2 separate regions of the Homo sapiens genome follow, and region 2 is linked to region 1. The links come from fine-mapping of genetic effects on gene expression. A gene starts in region 1. The other region holds a variant in brackets. All regions are shown on one strand. Distances are between the middles of the regions. Region 1 holds the start of ANKRD52 (ankyrin repeat domain 52). Region 2 overlaps SLC39A5 (solute carrier family 39 member 5).

Region 1 (5,366 bases):
TTAAGAATTTTAATCTAGTCTGACCATTCATTTAGTGCTTCAGCTTAAGTGTTTATATAACCATCCGGGCTGCTTCTCCTTCAGGCTTGAGGGCCCAGAAGCAGGGAAACGTGAGTAGGAAGGTAAGAAAAGGGAAAGCCCCAGCTGGGCCTGGATGGGAACAGTCCTCACCTCAAGATGCCCACTATGCACTGCATGGTGCAGAGCACTGCGCCCGCTCCTGTCAGCCACGTTGAGGCTGCTCAACAGGGGTGCCAGAGCCTCAGCACACTTGGTGGCCCGGTTGGCAGCAGCCACATGCAGTGGTGTCTGCCACAGCTTGTCCCGGGCATTCACATCTGCTGAATGTGCCAGCAGCAGCCCCAGCACCTTCTGTTGAGGGGCAGGGGACAAAAGAGAGAGTGGGAGCAGGAGGTAAAACAACAGGAAATGGAAGGAGGAATAGGTCAGCATAGCATCTACAGCCCCTTCCCCAGCACAGAATCTCTTCTCATTTTTCCAACATACCTAGCCTCTGAATACCTACTTTCCATCTTCTGGATCTTCTTAGAACTTAAGCTCTTCCTTACCTTGCTGATTAAAACAAGGACCCTTTGCTCTTCTTCAAGCCACCTGACTCGCCAACTTAGACCCTGAAAATCTTCACTCACACATACATCCATTCCCAAACAAATCCACATGTGGAGATCCACACATCCCAACCCCCTACTACTTCTAGGAAAACTAAATGCTCTTGCTACATCTTGCCCTGAACACCCTCTTTAGCCTTCTCATAGGCACCAAAATTATTTTCAGTATCTCAGTAAGCAAACAGATACTGGTTCGTTTGCAAAACCCGAGCTAAAATGCCCCTCCTAACCACCACCCACCTCATTCCCACTGGCCTCGGCCCCTCCCCCTGGTGGCTGGAGCCAGGGAAGTGATGAACTGAGGAGGAGGTCCCCCTTTCCCTGTCTTCAGGGCTGATGGGAATAGGATAAAGGACCCAACTGATGAAATATGTTTGGCCCCTGTGCTGTCAACTTTCAAGCTGCTTGAGGGCCAAGGATGCAACAGATTACTATACCCATCCTCCATCACAAGGAAAAGAAATCTCAGTGCCCAGAGGGGGATCAGACTCAAGGTGGCCCCCCAGGGAGGGATGAGTCACTCAGGCCTGGCAGCAGGGCCCCCGCAGTCTGCCAGCCCAGTGTTAAGCTCTTCCTGAGTCACATCAGCTGGCAGCACTCAACCCCCTTACTGGCCAGTTCTAGGGGTAGGAGGAAGGGGCCAAGATTTGATCTCCTCACTACCTGGGGTAGAACAGCTTGTAGGGCTGAGGACTGAGGCTCCTTAACCCTTAACCCCCACCTTTAAGCAACTTATCCTTTTTGAAAGGGTAATAGAAGGTGGGGGTGCATACCTCGTTTCGGGAGGCAGCAGCACGATGAAGAGGGGTCAGCCACAGTGTGTCCTTAGCATTGACATTAGCACCTGTGGGGATATAATTTCCTATTTTGATGGAAGGTGGGGAGGAGGTATGAAGGAAGCCAGTAATCAGGCCAGGAAATCTGAATGGAGCTGGAGCCTCGCCTGGACCAAGCCGGGGAGAGCAATCCTTGAATATCAAAAAAGACTCCTCCCCTCCCTTCGCTCCCTATGTGCCACACCTTCCAGCTCCCCACTTTCACCTGACATCAGTAGCAACTGGAGGATGGGGACATCGCCTACGTAGGCAGCAGCATGCAATGGAGTTCGCCTCTCTTGGTCCTGGGAAGGCAAAAAAGAGCAGGGAGTATGGGCGCGGGGTAAGGGGGCTATCAAGGACCCCAGCCCAAGTCTCAGAGCTCCAGGCCCTTCCCCACAACCTCTTCCCATAGTTTCTGCAGCGTCCTAAGTCCCGGTATTGGGAGTCAAAGGCAAGCACCTAGGGAGGGTGGAGTCAGGGCCAATGGGCTGAGAAGCCGGCTCCTTTTTCCAGGAGGGGTGGGGGCGCTGCAGACTCCGGAGGTTGAGAAGAGAACAACGTTCCTGGGCATTCCCAGCCCAAGTGATCTGGGCTTCAAGCCTGACCTGCTCTCCATCCCCAAATGCAGAGTAGGCTTTCACTCCAGGATGGAAAGAACTGCGGCCTCATCTGAGCAGAGGAGACACGGAGCCGCCCCACCGGTGGGGAGGGGTCCAGAACACGGGAGCCAGGATTCCGGTCTCGCCATCCTCCCTGCTCCCAACTCACCAGCACATTGATGTTCTCCTTCTGCGAGAGTAGGGAACGCACTTCCTCCACATCTCGGCTAAAGATGGCCTGGACCAGGGGCGGCTGCAGAGAGAACCGGCATTCTGAGAGCGGGCTGGAGCCGGAGCGGAACCGGTGTGGGGGTGGGGGTGGGGGAGCACCTAGGTTTGAGTGGGGGGCGTCCGTGGAGGGGCTCCACTCTAGGGATTCTGGCTGGAGCGAGCTCCCGCGGTGCCTCCGCCGGTTGCCAGGTCCCCAAGGACACCGGCTCGGTTGAGGGGAGCGCGGCATGGGGCGGGGCGGGAGCTGCGGGAGCCCCGGGCTCAGGCCCAGCCTAGGCCGCACATCCCCGGGCTCGCGTGACGGCAGCGCCGAGCCCTGGAAGGAGGAAGCGGGAAAGGGCAGGAGGGCTGACCTGGTCCGTGATGCTGAGGATCCCCATGGCTCGGCCCGGGCTCCGTCCGCATCGAGCTCCCGGCGGCGGCGGCGGCGGCTCCACCGGGGACACGGAGCGGCCCAGGCGGCGGCTGCGGTGGCGGCTGCAGGGAGAGCGCGGCCCCGCCTACCGGGGGGCGGGCGAGTTGGAGGCCGCAGCGCTCCCTGGCGGCCGTCCTGGTCCCGGCGCTCCCCGCGCAAACGGACCCCGGCCGCAGCGCCCTCCGCCCCACCCTGGCGGCCCCAGCAGCCCCTGCACCCCCGAACTCGCGCGCCGGCTCCCCGGCTCACGCAGCTGGCCGCGCTGTGCTCTCCGCTCCAGTCTGGCGGCCCAAGGGGTTCCCCACAAGACCCTAGCGGAAACCTGGGCCTTAGTCCCGCGGTGCTTCCCAAACTGAGGACCGAACGGCTGGCCAGATCTTACCCAGCCCACAATGCTCCCGCCCGAGCTAACTCCTCCCGTCAGCGATTCCACACCCCGAAATCCCCCACAGACTAGGAGGAACTGGCGGGTGGAGAACTGGGAATTATGTATGGCAATAGCCCCAGAGGGAGGGAAAGCGTGTATCTCCACTGGCGGAGGCGTGAGTTCGGTAGAGAAGAAATAGCAAAAGTGCTCAAACTGCAGAGAAACCCCAAGGAGGATTCTACTGCAGAAAACACCCACAAAGAGGCCATGACAACTGGCAGCTGGAAAAGGCCGCCAAGACCAACAGAAGGGGCATTTTCCAACTCCTTACTGATTCCATTGCAAGGTTAAAGTGGAAAACACTCAACAATTTCTCCCCAGAACAGCCTGTGGCGCTTCCCCTCCTCCAATGGAGAGGCCAGAGAGCCGTCAATTAGAGAAGAAATGAATGGAGGTCATCTCAACCCAGAAACGGAAAAAGGAGGAAGACGAAAAGTGGAGATTGAAAAATTGATACAATTTATAAAAGGTGATCCAGGGTCCTGTTCAGAGTTTCACAACTCAATACACATTGAAGAGAACACGAAATGGACGAAGTGCAGCATGCTGGCGTCCTGTCAAGGCTTTATATATAAAAATCCTCCCTTGAGGGGAGAGGAAAAAAATTAAAAAATAAAAATACATTTTATTTTATTTTTTGAGATGGAGTTTCACTCTCGTCCCCCAGGCTGGAGTGCAGTGGCACGATCTCGGCTCACTGCAACCTCCGCCTCCCGGGTTCAGTGATTATCCTGTCTCAGACTACCAAGTAGCTGAGACTACAGGCGCCCGCCACCCTGCCCGGCTAATTTTTTATTTTAGTAGAGACGGGGGTTTCACCATGTTGGTCAGGCTGGTCTCGAACTCCTGACCTCAGGTGATCCACCTGCCACGGCATCCCAAAGAGCTGGGATTACCGGCGTGAGCCACCGCACCCGGCGAAAATACATTTCAAAAAAGCCTTCCCGGCCGGGCGCGGTGGCTCACGCCTGTAATCCCAGCACTTTGGGAGTCCGAGGCGGGTGGATCACGAGGTCAGGAGATCGAGACCATCCTGGCTAACACAGCGAAACCCCGTCTCTACTAAAATACAAAAATCAGCCGGGCAGGGTGGCGGGCGCCTGTAGTCCCAGCTGCTTGGGAGGCTGAGGCAGGAGAATGGCGTGAACCCGGGAGGTGGAGCTTGCAGTGAGCCGAGATTGCGCCACTGCACTCCAGCCTGGGCGACAGAGCGAGACTCCGTCTCAAAAAAAAAAAAAAAAAAAAAAAAAAAAAGCCTTCCCATTCCCAACATGGTGAAACCCCATCTCTACCAAAAATATAAAAAAGTAGCCTGGTGTGGTGGTGCACGCCTGTAATCCCAGCTACTGGAGAGGCTGAGGCAGGAGAATCACTTGAACCAAGGAGGCGGAGGTTGCAGTGAGCCGAGATGGAGCCACTGCTCTCCAGCCTGGGTGACAGAGCCAGACTCCATGTCAAAAAAAAAAAAAAAAAAAAAAAGCCTTCCCTTGCTTTCCTGCTAGAAAGATACTTAAGACACTAGTAACAGTCCTTTTTTCCCAGAAAGAAAAACTGGGGTACAGGAAATAAGGAATGAGAGAGAAATTTACCTATCACTATATACCTTTTGGAATTTTTTAAATTTTTACCATATTGAAAATAAAAGTTAAAATATTGCTTAGGAGCAATCACTCCGTGATTCCATGCACACACAAAAATTATGAAGAAATTTAAACTTACCTCTTCCAGGAAGTCTCCTCTGGCTAATAGGCTCTTTTCCTTTTGTTAGTTCTCCTTAACACTTACATACTTAGTTTATACTGCCACAATCTGGTTAAATTGTACACCTTTGTTTCTCATTTCACCTTTTTTTTTGGAGACCAGTGTCGCTCTGTCGCCGCCCAGGCTGGAGTGCTGTGGCGGGATCTCGGCTCACTGCAAGCTCCGCCTCTGGGGTTCATGCCATTCTCCTGCCTCAGCCTCCCCAGTAGCTGGGACTACAGGTGCTGCCACCATGCCCGGCTAACTTTGAGTAGAGATGGGGTTTCACCATGTTAGCCAGGAGGTTTCAATCTCCTGACCTCGTGATCCGCCCGCCTCGGCCTCCCAAAGTGCTGGGATTACAGGCGTGAGCCACCGTGCCCAGCCAGGTATAGTTTTTTTTAAGCTCCAGAATATCAGTATAGAGAAACAGGCATTTAATATTTGATGACTGATGATGATGATGAAGCAGCAGCAGAAACCAAAGGTAGCAAAGGATCAAATGGA
Region 2 (5,366 bases), 25 kb before region 1:
CCATTAACTCCTCTCTTATGTGAGCCTTCACACACTGGCCCCACCCCTGACCCCGCCCCAAGGCAGGTGGGCTAGGAGGGGGTGCATGTCCATCTCAGCCTTCTATGTGACGTGGCCTCCGATCCACCTGGACACCTGGAGGCTAAGCCTGGATTCCCCCTTCCCTGACTCAGGAACTGCTTAACGTCTACAGCAAGGCCTAATAGGGGACCTGAGGTGACAGCTCTTATGTTGCCAGTAGGGGTGAGGCCCTGGGGATTGAGGGGGGATAAAGAGGTGGGGCAAAGTTGAGGGGTGGGGTTTAGGGGACAAGGAATGGACGGTCAGCTCTGGATGAAGTATGAGGAGAGCTCTGACTCAGGGAGGTGCTCCAGGAACCAGCAAACAAGAGGCTGCTCCCGCAGGAGGCAGTGTGAAGGGAGAAAGAAGGCTGCAGTAGGGGCTGCTGCTGGACTCGGTGGGGAGCAGGTGCAAGGAGCTCTGGCTCCCCCATGGACCTGAGCTGGAGAGCAGAGCGCAGCTCCAGCCCATTCCTCATTCTTCCAGGGCACAGTCCTCAGGATGTTTCGGGGAGAATAGGAGCCAGAACCTGAGCCCCTAAGCTATTCCCCTCACCAATGATGGGGTCCCCAGTGAGTCATCTGCTGGCCGGCTTCTGTGTGTGGGTCGTCTTGGGCTGGGTAGGGGGCTCAGTCCCCAACCTGGGCCCTGCTGAGCAGGAGCAGAACCATTACCTGGCCCAGCTGTTTGGCCTGTACGGCGAGAATGGGACGCTGACTGCAGGGGGCTTGGCGCGGCTTCTCCACAGCCTGGGGCTAGGCCGAGTTCAGGGGCTTCGCCTGGGACAGCATGGGCCTCTGACTGGACGGGCTGCATCCCCAGCTGCAGACAATTCCACACACAGGTACTGACCCCTTCCTCCACTCCACAGGGCCACATCTCCCAGGTCCTCTCAGTGCTTGCCCCCAGTTGCCTCGTTCTGGCTTCCTCACGAGATCCCTGGAGTTACAAATTCTTCAGAACCGAGCTCCTTGGTATCTCTTCAAAACCTCTCATGCTTCTATTGCCTTCTCTCTCTTTTCTTGAGACTGGGGGTCTCGCTTTGTCACCCAGGCTAAAGTGCAGTGACACATTCACGGCTCACTGCAACCTCTGCTTCCCAGGCTGAAGCCATCCTCCCACCTCAGCCTCCTGAGCAGCTGGGACCATAGGCACACACCACCACAGCCGGCTAATTTTAAAAATTTTTTACAGAGACAAGGGTTTCGCTGTGTTGCCCAGGCTGGTCTCAAACTCCTGGGCTCAGCTCAGCGATCTGCCTGCCTCAGCTTCCCAAAGTGCTGGGACTACAGATGTGAACTACCACCCTAGCCCTCCGTTGCCTTCTAATTCTCTCCTCCTCCAAATCTCTAAGCCCTTAAATTTCTTGCTCTTAGTATCACTGTTCAGTGTCTCTGGGCTGATTTGGCTCCAAATTCGTAGACTTCTTTTTTCTTTTCTTTTCTTTTTTTTTTTTTTTTTTTTTTGAGACAGAGTCTCGCTCTGTCGCCCAGGCTGGAGTGCAGTGGTGTGATCTTGGCTCACTGTAACCTCTGCCTCCCCGGTTCAAGCGATTCTCCTGCCTCGGCCTCCTGAGTAGCTGGGATTACAGGCACACACCACCACGCCGGGCTAATTTTTGCAATTTTAGTAGAGACGGGGTTTCACCATTTTGGTCAGGCTGGTCTCGAACTTCCAACCTCAGGTGATCCACCCACCTCAGCCTCCCAAAGTGCTGGGATTACAGGCGTGAGCCACCGTGCCCAGCCATTCGTAGCCCTTTTGGTTGTCGTCCTTTTTTTTCTGTCCCCCCCAGTGGCAGAAAATGGACAACTCACAGATCTTCCTAAGAATGACATTCCATGGTTTCTGGGTCCCAGGATCTCCAGTCAGTGGCTAGTCCCCCCATTCCCCCTAAAATCCCTGGGAGCCTCTCAAAGCGGGTTGATAGAGAACACAAGGGAGGCTGACTTGCTGTCTCATCCATTCCAGGCCACAGAACCCTGAGCTGAGTGTGGATGTCTGGGCAGGGATGCCTCTGGGTCCCTCAGGGTGGGGTGACCTGGAAGAGTCAAAGGCCCCTCACCTACCCCGTGGGCCAGCCCCCTCGGGCCTGGACCTCCTTCACAGGCTTCTGTTGCTGGACCACTCATTGGCTGACCACCTGAATGAGGATGTGAGTCTGACGGTCTCTAGAGGGGAAGGAGCCATGGGATTAGATGGCCTGAAATGTTTAAATAATCAGTAGTTTTTTGTTTTGTTTTGTTTTTAAATCCCAACGTGGACCAAGCGTGGTGGCTCACGCCTGTAATCCCAACACTTTGGGAGGCCGAGGTGGGTGGATCACCTGAGGTCAGGAGTTCGAGACCAGCCTGGCCAACATGGTGAAACCCCATCTCTACTAAAAAATACAAAAATTAGCCGGGTGTGGTAACAGGTGTGTGTAATCCTAGCTACTCAGGAGGCTGAGGTGAGAAAATTGCTTGAACTTGGGAGGCAGAGGTTGCAGTGAGCCAAGATGGCACCATTTGCACTCCAGCCTGGGCAACAAGAGGGAGACTCTGTCTCAAAAAAAAAAAAAAAAAAAAAAAAAAAAAAAAAAAAATAGCTGGGCGTGGTGGCACATGCCTATAATCCCAGTTACTCGGAAGGCTGAGGCAGGAAAATCACTTGAACCCAGGAGGCGGAGATTGCAGTCAGCCGAGATTGCACCACTGCACTCCAGCCTGGGTAACACAGCGAGACTCTGTCTCAAAAATGAAAATAAAAAAAATAAAAAAATAAAAAAAAAATATCTCACTGTGGTCTTAGGGGATGTTATTTCAATAGTGAACTATGTTCCCTCTGGGATCAGAGCAGGTGAGCCCATATCCAGAGCTCCAAGACTCAGTTTAGGGGAATAGATGGCAAAGCAGAGAATCTAGAGAAGCAGCCCAGGGTAGGATCTGGATGGTCACCTGGAGAGGAGACCTGCAGGGAATGGATGGCTGTCTTCATCCAGAAAGACAGAGAATATATTCCACTTACACCAGAGGGCAGACAAAGCTGCCTAACCCTGATGGAGGTCCAGTGAGTGCCCATTGCAGGAAGCATTCAAGCTGAGGCTGGATGAACATCGACAGGGCTGTTGAGAGGGAG[A/G]TTAGATGGCATTTCAGGGTCTTTTCCCTTTTAAGATTCTGGCATGGAGAGCTCTAGTTTTCCAACCAGCTTCATTTATCAAATCAACAAAATGATTGAAATGATCAGAGTTTGCAGGGAAGATGATGACAATGCTCACTAGCACCCAGTTTGCATCAAATTGAATACCTGCATTGGACTGAATATTCACTAATAATACACATTGATTATAAGTACCCTTGGCCCTAGTCCCCAAGGTACCTGCCAGTAGGAGCAAAGGGGACCCTGGGAGAGACCCAGGAGTCTATGCAATGGAAGGACAGGTGTTAAATATATATATATATATTTTTTTGAGGTAGAGTCTGACTCTGTCACCCAGGCTGGAGTGCAATGGCGTGATCTTGGCTCACTGCAACCTCCACCTCCTGGGTTAAAGCAATTCTCCTGCCTCAGCCTCCCGAGTAGCTGGGATTATAGGTGTTCACTACTATCCCCAGCTAATTTTTTTTTTTTTTTTTTGAGATGGAGTCTCACTCTGTCGCCCAGGCTGGAGTGCACTGGTGCAATCTCGGCTCACTGCAACCTCTGCCTCCTGGGTTCAAGCGATTCTCCTGTCTCAGCCTCCTGAGTAGCTGGGATCACAGGTGCACGCCACCATGCCCAGCTAATTTTTTGTATTTTAGTAGAGACAGGGTTTCACCATGTTGCCCAGGCTGGTCTCGAACTCCTGAGCTCAGGCAATCTACCCACCTCAGCCTCCCAAAGTGCTGGGATTACAGGCGTGAGCCACCGCACCCGGCTCATCCCCAGCTAATTTTTGTATTTTTAGTAGAGACAGGGTTTCACTATGTTGGCCAGGTTGGTCTCAAACTCCTGACCTCAGATGATACACCCGCCTGGGCCTCTCAAGGGCTGGGATTATAGGTGTGAGCCACTACACCTGGCCAGGTGTTAAAGATCTGAGTCATAGTTCCTGGTGATTCTCCAATGTATGACCCTCAATTCTCCAGTGTCTGAACGGCTCCCAGCTGCTGGTCAATTTTGGCTTGAGCCCCGCTGCTCCTCTGACCCCTCGTCAGTTTGCTCTGCTGTGCCCAGCCCTGCTTTATCAGATCGACAGCCGCGTCTGCATCGGCGCTCCGGCCCCTGCACCCCCAGGGGATCTACTATCTGGTCAGCAAGTAGGAGTGGGTGGGGGACACCCTGAATCCTGGAAGTGGGGCCCATGCCAAAAAGGAGGCTCACTGGGGTCCTGCCTCTCCTTGTAGTGTTCTCTCTGCTCCACCTTACGTGTGGGACCCTCCTCTTGCCCTGACCTAACTTCAGCCCCTGATTCTCCCCAGCCCTGCTTCAGAGTGCCCTGGCAGTCCTGTTGCTCAGCCTCCCTTCTCCCCTATCCCTGCTGCTGCTGCGGCTCCTGGGACCTCGTCTACTACGGCCCTTGCTGGGCTTCCTGGGGGCCCTGGCGGTGGGCACTCTTTGTGGGGATGCACTGCTACATCTGCTACCGCATGTATGTGAAGCCCCTTCCTTGTACCCCTGGCCTCCATGGATCTAAGGTGTCCCCAGCCATAGGACATCCCCTCCGCCTTTCCATCAGCTCCCATATCCTACTCCCAGATCCTGGCTTCAGCCCACAGCTGCCTTCTAGTAGAGCATATGAGCGAAGGCTTGCCACAATCCATGCAAGGGGATGTTGTTGGGTATAGGGGCTTCCAGAGTCTGCCCTGACCTTCTCTCTGTCAGGCACAAGAAGGGCGGCACGCAGGACCTGGCGGACTACCAGAGAAGGACCTGGGCCCGGGGCTGTCAGTGCTCGGAGGCCTCTTCCTGCTCTTTGTGCTGGAGAACATGCTGGGGCTTTTGCGGCACCGAGGGCTCAGGCCAGTGAGTGATACCCTTTTCTCCTCCTTCTGCTGAGACCAGAGTCCCAGTCAAGAACTGGGCCAGGCCGGGCGCGGTGGCTCACGCCTGTAATCCCAGCACTTTGGGAGCCCAAGGCGGGCAGATCACAAGGTTAGGAGTTCGAGTCCAGCCTGACCAACATGGTGAAACCCTGTCTCTACTAAAAATACAAAAATTAGCTGGGCGTGGTGGTGCGTGTCTGTAATCCCAGCTACTCAGGAGGCTGAGGCAGGAGAATCGCTTGACTTGGGAGGTGGAGGTTGCAGCGAGCTAAGATGGCACCACTGCACTCCAGCCCAGGTGAC

What was found. PIP is the estimated chance that this variant, and not a neighbour inherited with it, causes the effect. A credible set is the group of variants that fine-mapping cannot tell apart.
Region 2: its variant is the best candidate, but not a certain one, in a credible set for the expression of ANKRD52 in whole blood (TOPMed, PIP 0.61).

What each region holds. Positions count from the first base shown.
Region 1 is chr12:56,255,613-56,260,978 of GRCh38, forward strand. It overlaps ANKRD52 (ankyrin repeat domain 52), which reads right to left and starts at 2,772. Exons shown (of 28, transcript NM_173595.4): 1 at 2,631-2,772; 2 at 2,216-2,299; 3 at 1,671-1,749; 4 at 1,403-1,473; 5 at 172-372. The coding sequence starts at 2,657. RefSeq lists enhancers at 782-1,774, 2,081-2,130, 2,211-2,260 and silencers at 2,321-2,390, 2,411-2,960, 2,971-3,030.
Region 2 is chr12:56,230,658-56,236,023 of GRCh38, forward strand. It overlaps SLC39A5 (solute carrier family 39 member 5), which reads left to right. Exons shown (of 13, transcript NM_173596.3): 3 at 174-216; 4 at 547-904; 5 at 2,032-2,215; 6 at 4,167-4,329; 7 at 4,500-4,669; 8 at 4,903-5,043. The coding sequence starts at 618. Among named protein-coding and RNA genes, the nearest start is that of SLC39A5, 3.3 kb to the left of the region's middle. The variant A/G (reference allele first, on the strand shown) is at 3,178.